Regions from separate parts of the Homo sapiens genome. Here regions 1 and 3 are each linked to region 2. The links come from fine-mapping of genetic effects on gene expression. A gene starts in region 2. Each other region holds a variant in brackets. All regions are shown on one strand. Distances are between the middles of the regions. Region 1 has its middle 2.4 kb from the start of PSIP1. Region 2 holds the start of CCDC171 (coiled-coil domain containing 171). Region 3 overlaps CCDC171 (coiled-coil domain containing 171).

Region 1 (2,772 bases), 40 kb before region 2:
TAGATAATACTGTTTTAAATACGGGACTCAACTGGAAATGAATTAGGAAATTTTTTTTGAATTGGTAAAAATTGAGAATTTTTTGAAAGCGATACAGCATGTCTTTAAAAAGGAATGAAAGAAGACAGTCCCAAAGTAAAATGTCCTGTAAGGAGTTTCGAGAAACTAAGTATACCTGGGCAATATGCAGAGAGTTCCAAGTGGAGCAAAAAGAGAAATTGGCAGAGGAGAAGGAAGGGTTGGTGAAATGTCTTGAAGCTTCTCATTCTGAATATGAATTTAATGTGTGTAGTAGGAAGCTACTATAGGTTGCTCAGCAAGAAGGGGGTAAAAATGATTATTTAACCAGTTCTTGATGTTTCAAGGTAGATGTTAGTAGAAAGAGGCTGGGGGTAACTGGAGTACTCATGAAATGACGCATTTCTCAGTGAGAATGGTGACTAAGAAAAGGGAAGGAAGAGCACAACTAAGTAATTACACAAAGGAATGATTGTCAGGTGTTGGCTATAAATTATGCATAGGAAAAGGTGGAAAAAGATGTATTGAAGAAAAGCTCAAGATACAGAGTAAGAGAGACCAAAGCAGCATCCAGCAATCATTTTTTTGTGTGTATGCACTTTATTTGTTCTAAACCCTGTAAGGCCTTGCTACTTCAAGTGTGGTCCAAGGCCCAGCAGCAAGGGCTTTACCTGGGAGCTCAGGTAAAGCTCAGACCTTCCCCAGGCCTTCTAAATCATAATCTGCGTTTTAACAGGATCCCTAGGTGATTCTTACGCATATTCAAGTTTGAGAAACTGCTTTAGAGGATACCTCAGACTGTAAAAACTTCAAACTAAGAAAAACAGATATATAACAAGTTATAATTAACGTTAAAGATAACTTTTTATTAGTACTAATGGTAGGATTAACAGGTAAAGAGGGGGTAGTTAGTGTTAGAGGGGACCTCAGAAAAGAAATAAAAAAGGGAAAATGGAAAAGCATTGATGTTTTACTATTAGTATTTTCTGTTGTTTTTGTTGTTTTAAAAAAAGGAAGTACCATACTTAGCTCCTGCTGCCTTTAAGTTTTGTCC[G/A]CTTCAACCTGTGGTAGTTTGTGAACAACAGGAGATACCCTTTAAACAATAAAGGCAAAACAGGTGGTGGTTTAAGCTTCCAGAGAACAAAAGCCCAGGATCCCTGGGAGCAACAGTTCTGAATCTGCGAGGAAAGGGGGGGGGAGGGGAGGGGAGGGGAGGGCAGGGAACGGGGAAGGAAAGCTGGGCACATCCTAGCCACTTGGGAGAGCTTTTCTGTGCTCTTTTCCAGCTATGCTTGGTGCAGCCCTCTCCCATAGTCAGCCTTCTTAGTGGGGATACTTGAAAAAGTATACCAAAATGGAGATCAGAGGAGCAATGGGAAAGTTATAAGGAGAAAGAGTGTAATTTCCAAAACAACTGAAGCAAGGGGAGGGGGCAGGAAAATCCAAATGAGTTGAGGCAGGAACTTGGCCTACATTATCTCATTTAACCCAAGTGCCACTATCCCCATTTCACAGATGAGAAAATAAGCTCACAGAAGGTAAGCAGCTAGCTTGCCCAAGATCACACATCTAGTCCAGGGGCTGAGGCAACATTCTAGCCCCTCTGGCTACTTGCCCATGCCATTTTTGTGATCCCACATCGCCTCTAGGTGGGGCAGGGAGGCAGCAAGGCTGAAGGAGGAGTGGCTTATAATTAGAAAAGATGCTGGAAGGAAAAGCAGCCCAGTACTTACTCTTCCACCTTCCACCTTTGGGCTTGAAAGTATTCCCAGCTTCAAATTTCCTAACAACCTCCCTCCACACCATGCCATTCCCCAGCTTGTCCCCAGCACGAGACCATTCTGTTTAACTCCTTCTGGTCCTAAAAAACTCAACCCAAAAATCACCTCTGGAAAAGATGTGACCTAATCTTAGAGTAACATAGTTTCTTATTTACACTCTTTCCTACTAATCTGTAAACTGCTTAGAAGTAGGCACTATCTTATTCATCAGTGCAGGTACTCAATAAAAAAGCGCCGGACGCGGTGGCTCATGCCCGTAATCCCAGCACTCTGGGAGGCCAGGGCAGGTGGATCACGAGGTCAGGAGTTCAAGACCAGCCTGGCCAACATGGTGAAACCCCGTCTATACTAAAAATACAAAAATTAGCCGGGTGTGGTGGTGTGCGCCTGTTAATCCCAGCTTCTCAGGAGGCTGAGGCAGGAGAATCCCTTGAACCTGGGAGGAGGAGGTTGCAGTGTTCCAAGATCACCCCACTGCACTCCAGCCAGGGTGACAGAGCGAGACTCTCTCTCAAAAAAAAAATTCCTTTTCAAAAATATTTATTGAGTGAATGAGAGGGAGGGGCAAGTGAAAAACCCCAACAGACTCATTAATCCTTTAGGATGAAAATACAGGTAAGTATGACACATGGAAGTGTTTTTGTTTTGACTTTATGAATTTTTCTTGTACAGTACTTAAAGGTTAACCCTTTAAGAGCAGTGACATTTTTCATTCACTACAAATACATTCATTTTAACTATTTTAATGAAAATCTTTCTAAATGAGATCTTTATTCTAAAAAATTAGCAACAATCTCTTCCTTCGTATCTCTTGCATAATTTCCTACCTTAATACACAGTGTTAGTGATGCACCTTCAATTTATTGGTATGAACAGGTATTGAACTGTTTTCTCGTGTTGTATGTTAATCCTTATGATGGGGAAATAGTGGGAAGTTAGCAAGAATATGGGGGAAAATAAAGAGCATTAATCA
Region 2 (2,853 bases):
ACTTTAGAGTGGGCTATTTTTTCCCTTTATTTCCTCTGGAGCAATTGTCCTCTTTATGGCTCTAGTAAAAAGAATCAGGGACAGGCCTCCGTTTTAGATGTAAATGACTAAAATCAAACCAATTAAGGTTTCAGTGCTACAAGAATCAAGGAGGTTTTAATCTCAATTTGTGTTTGCATTTATGACCGTTGGCTCTCCCATGGGAGAGAGAAAAGACGGCCCCTACACCTGGTTTCAGGTTGATTACAATCAACAAGGACCCAGTTTAGTATAGAAGGCTCGTTTTGCATTAAACACCTTTTTGTGCAGAGGAGGTGGTGGTGGTGAAGATAAAAATCTTTGACCAAATCCTGTCAATTTGCATTGTTCTCTGGAAGAATAGGCTTTCAAAAGTTAAGGAACAAAAGAGGAGTTGGTTTTCCAGTCTCCCTTAGGCGGCAGCAGATTGTGAAGCAGCCACCGGGAGGAACCAAAGTATAAATTATCAATAAGAGGACGGTGTGTGTGTGTGTGTGTGTGTGTGTGTGTGTGTGTGTGTGTGTGTCAGAGAAAAGTGAGAGAAGCGAGGAAAGAGATAGGGAACACACATGCTAAGGCTCCGAGGCGTTTTCCACGATGTGCCTGGTTACGTAATGTTGATAATGAAACGCACTGCAAGCAGCATCAATGCATTCTTCCGACCCTGCTCACCACTCCCAGCTGGGATACAATGGGGACGGGAAGAGGGGACAGGATGCCCTGTGCAGGCAGAGAGCTGTCCAGACAGAGGTAAACCAGGCAGTTGGGCAGAACCCGAGCCCAGAGAATTTCTCCCCAGGCCCCGGGACCAGCCCACCGTTGCTGTGGCTCTAAAGATGGGCAGAAGAACCAGTTTCAAAAAGCAGGATCTGGGATCCGACCTCTTAGGTTTTTATTCAGCAGGCAGGGAAAAGGGGTTAGAAGCTGGAAATCTGCATTTCCACTCGGCTCTGGCGACTGAGACAGGAACGCGGACACCTCACGCTGAAAAGCCACAGCAGCGCGTGGGCAGGGCGCACCCCCGCGCGGGGACGCGGAGCTCCTGGAGCGAGAGCGCGTGCGGTCGCGAGCCCGCCGCTCCCCAGCAACGGCGCATGCGCCCGTTCGTCCCTCAGCGAAGGCGCGCTGCTTGGCGGGCGGGCTCTTCCAATCCGAGCCAGCGTTCTCGGAGTACGTATCCAGGAGCTGCAAGCTGAGGGCTGCGGGAGGCGGGAGGAAAAAGTGGGGCCGGGCCTGAGTTGGGCTGACCTGTGAAAGTCTGGGAAGGTCTGCGAGAGAAGCGGAGTGTTTTCAGCTCCGGAAGTGGCAGTTGTAAACTTCACCTCCCGGGGGCTCTTCCCCTTCTGTACCCCTTTGCTGTTTGTCCCCCTCCTCCCGGGTCCTGGAGTCCGTCGTGTTCCAACAGTTTTTGCTCTTATTCCCGTGGGCTGCCTGGGCCTCCTTTCACCCGTGAGACTTGGAGCGGCCCCTGGGGTCTTGGGTGTGCAGCACGGATCACGCGAGACCCCTGAGGTAACCGCACGGTGTGGGGGCTTCGAGGCGGACGACTTGGGAGGGAGGTGTTGAGAGGGTTGTAGGGGCCCCTGAGTGAGTTTGGGGCGGCCCTGGGGCTGTTGGCGTAGGCTTTGGGGCACGCCTCCAGCTCCCTGGGCTGGGTCTCCCCGCCCACCTGGAGGAAGATCTCCGTGGAGCATCCTAGCCAGAGATCGCTGAGGCTGTACCAGAGCGCCGGATGGGGACCAGAGGGGAGGCAGAGGACCGGGATTTGGAGCTTCTTAGGGTTACTGCTGCGGAGCGCTTTCGTTCCCGAGAATCAGTAAGCCCCTCGAGGATAGGGACCACGTCTTTCAGCCCGCTCTCCCCTTTTTAAATGCCGGCCACACACTAGACACTCTACAGATGTTTGATAAACGGGAATGAGTTGTGCTAGACTGTCACCTGCAGCTTCTACCTACCCTCCAGGACTCTGAGAGACTTAGAATCTGAGTCAGCTGTGCGTTTTCCCGAAGCTGTAAATTTTCTGCAGAAATGGAGCCGACTTTTTGAATTTTTTTATTCCATTATGATATTGATCCTAAGAAAATACATATTTCATGTATACATTTTAGGTAAATGAGATAAATACGTCTTTATTTTGTTTATTAGAGTTGGTGTCCAGCTCTTTTGAATACATGACATACCGATGTTTTATGGTTTTCATAATATTGGAGAAAAGAACATACGATTTTGTCACTTTTTTTTTTTTTTGAGATGGAGTCTTGCTCTGTCACCCAGGCTGGAGTGCAGTGGCGCGATCTCGGCTCACTGCAAGCTCCGCCTCCCGGGTTCACGCCATTCTCCTGTCTCAGCCTCCCCAGCAGCCGGGACAACCGGCGCACGCCGCCACGCCCGGCTAATTTTTTTGTATTTTTAGTGGAGACGGGGTTTCACTGTGTTAGCCAGGATGGTCTCGATCTCCTGACATCGTGATCCGCCCGCCTCGGCCTCCCAAAGTGCTGGGATTACAGGCGTGAGCCACTGCGCCCGGCATGTCACTTATTTTATTTAACTGTTAGTTCCTACTCTCAACAAAACAGTGGTAGAGCAGAAGATGAACATGGTTTTTCATAAAATGCAGAGGAAACAAAGGCAGTGCAACCTGCTAAGAGGAAAGATGAAGGGCATAGTCTTAGTTTGTAGCTTTCTGTGTTAGTCTTGGGGCTCAGCCATTTATGAGCTGCGTCCCCACAGGCAAACCACCTAACCTTCCTAGGCGTTAGGTTCTTTATCTGTCAGATAAGGAGGAAGGACTTAGTCTCTAAAGTCTCATTTGATTCTAAAACGTTTTGGTTGTCT
Region 3 (2,500 bases), 330 kb after region 2:
TGTTTTTTCTTGTTGAGATTTTTATCTCTCTTTGCCTTTTAAAAAGGACAAGATGACATTTAAGGGCAAGTAATTGCATCCGTGTAAAGCTTCTGCTACAGTTTTAAAGAATCTTATAACTTTGTACTCCTTAATTCAGCTTAATGTATGTATGAATTATATACCTTGCGGGAATGATCTGGTATAACTGATCTGAACTGAGATTAAGGAAAATCTGGTAGGACTTCTTTAAAAACAAGGTAGATTTATAAATTCATTTTTCTAGTTTTGTTGTTTATTATTCCTTTTCTTAATAGGAAAAAATAATTAGGAAGGAAATAAAATCATAGCAGAATCAGTATTACAGAAGGTTGAAGCAGTTATGCAACTTTGCTAGAAAGTAGTAGGACTGGCAATAAAGCAGTTGAAATCCTTCCCCCTGTAGACACAAATTACACCAGTAGCAGGGATTCTCATTATTTTATACAATTGTTTTCTTTTTGTGTGTATGTGGAATACAACATTGTCTTTTCTTGTGAAGGATGAGTATGTATTACAATTCTTGTGGTAGCACTGGATAGAATTCCAGTGCTACTGGAGTTCTATCCTAGAATCACTATTTTCTGTGACCCCTTGACCCTGAATTCTTCCAGCATGTCAGTTTCCTCATCAGTAAAATGGAGGTGATATTACCTGGTCTGGTGCATCTTTGGGTGATTATGAGGATCCTATAACATGTATGAAAGAACTTAGAAAATTAAATCGCACTAATAAATGTTTTTGAAATAATTTTTCTTTAAATATTTGCCATATAAACATCCCTTGGTCAGGTATATATAGATTGCTTAGTTTTCAATTTCAGGTTAATATTTTTACCCCTTTAAAAGACAAGAAAGTAAATCAGATTATATGGAAATTGGCAACCATAAGTCTGTGCAATTTACTGTATGTCATTGAGTTATGTTGATTAGAATGGGAATTATTTTCTTAACAGCATAGTATTTGGAAAAGTTGAAATAATTTCATTTTCTGGGGAAGGAGTCAGCAAGGTAGTATTAGAAAAAGCTTGTGTGGAGAGTCAGAATGCCTGGATTGAAGTTCTGGCCCTGTAATTTAACCACCTCGGTAAGTCACTCAACAGCACAGAGCCACTGTTCCCTCATCTGTAAAAGGTGACAGTGACGCCAGTCTTGCTTTTGCTCACAGGACTGTAGGGAGATCAGATGAGATAATGTGCATGTGAAGGTGATTTTCACATTAAAAAATGCTATATTAGTAAAAGCTAAGTTGGACTGAACTATAAAAGGCCTAAGGTCAGGAACGGTGACCCAACTATATTGAGAAAGGTTTTAGTGTTTTGACTTTTGGAGGTTTTTGATTGATGACCTGTTCAACATGTGCCTTCAAAAAAATAATATGTTCAACAACTTTAGTGTTTCCTTCCAGTTAAGTATACAGCCATTGCCAAGACCCAGGTGGTAAATTCATGCCATAT[A/G]CTACTATTTAAATAATCATATAAAGTAATGCAAACATTACTACTGTTTCCATATTTTGAAACATTTTGTCACCTTTTCATCATTTAATTTTGGGATGATTTCAAATTCCAACTCAAGTGGTGACAGTATTTGCTTTTATGTGAAATGTTTGAGATGCAATTAGTAAAAAACAAAAATGACAAAACGTATCAAAGTACAGTACAGAATTTTGTTTTTTGTTACAACTCTGAGTTCTAGGTGGCCCTAAGTAGAAAAGCTGCTGACATGATGTGAACATAATTTCTTTGTCATTAATGTTAAGAGGCAAAAACTAAATTCTAAACTTGATGCTTTATCTTTTTGTTCATTTTAAGGCCACTTTTTAAATATAACTAGAACTATTATATCTTTTAATACTTATTATTGAGAGAACGAAGCCTGTGAGCAGTTGAACTTTCAAGTGCTATAACCAGAATTGCTATTCATTTTAGCTACTTGGACAAAAAACAGTGTTTGATGGACTGCCTAGGTGAAGACCTGGAAAAGGAAGGGTTATCTACAAATGAGTGAGTTTATTATGGCTTAGTGATTTGCTGATTGATTTCATTTGCTGTCAGTTAAGGCTCTCTTAATGTCAGTTTTCTTTGCATAATGCCTTGAAATGAAGACTGATGAAGTTCTTCAAATTGATGCCGCTTATATAAACTGACCCCGATTTGCCCTATTCTGCATGACAACTTAAGTGACAGCAGTTAGAAGAAAATACAGCAATGAATATGCAACTTAAGGATTAAGGAAGATGCAGTAAATCAGTCTAAAGCTAAGTACAATGATAATTTCTTGTAATAATTCCACAGATGCCTTACATTTGTTAAACAGACTGTTATTACTCTCAAATACTCAAATATATGTTTTCATTATATACATGTATTTGAATTGAAGAAGAGAACTAAAAGTTATTCCAACAGAGATCCTAATTCTTTTCCCTCTTATTTAAACTTGGAATTATCAAAATCACAGTTTTAAAAATATTTTATTTAGGATAT

What was found. PIP is the estimated chance that this variant, and not a neighbour inherited with it, causes the effect. A credible set is the group of variants that fine-mapping cannot tell apart.
Region 1: its variant is the best candidate, but not a certain one, in a credible set for the expression of CCDC171 in monocytes (TOPMed, PIP 0.77).
Region 3: its variant is the best candidate, but not a certain one, in a credible set for the expression of CCDC171 in tibial nerve (GTEx, PIP 0.52).

Annotation. Positions count from the first base shown.
Region 1 is chr9:15,511,956-15,514,727 of GRCh38, forward strand. No RefSeq gene overlaps it. Among named protein-coding and RNA genes, the nearest start is that of PSIP1, 2.4 kb to the left of the region's middle. RefSeq lists enhancers at 1-34, 687-1,305. The variant G/A (reference allele first, on the strand shown) is at 1,073.
Region 2 is chr9:15,551,773-15,554,625 of GRCh38, forward strand. It overlaps CCDC171 (coiled-coil domain containing 171), which reads left to right and starts at 1,271. Exons shown (of 26, transcript NM_173550.4): 1 at 1,271-1,530. RefSeq lists enhancers at 868-1,513, 1,409-1,578 and silencers at 969-1,028, 1,039-1,128.
Region 3 is chr9:15,883,569-15,886,068 of GRCh38, forward strand. The region is part of intron 24 of CCDC171 (coiled-coil domain containing 171); the gene reads left to right. Among named protein-coding and RNA genes, the nearest start is that of CCDC171, 330 kb to the left of the region's middle. The variant A/G (reference allele first, on the strand shown) is at 1,475.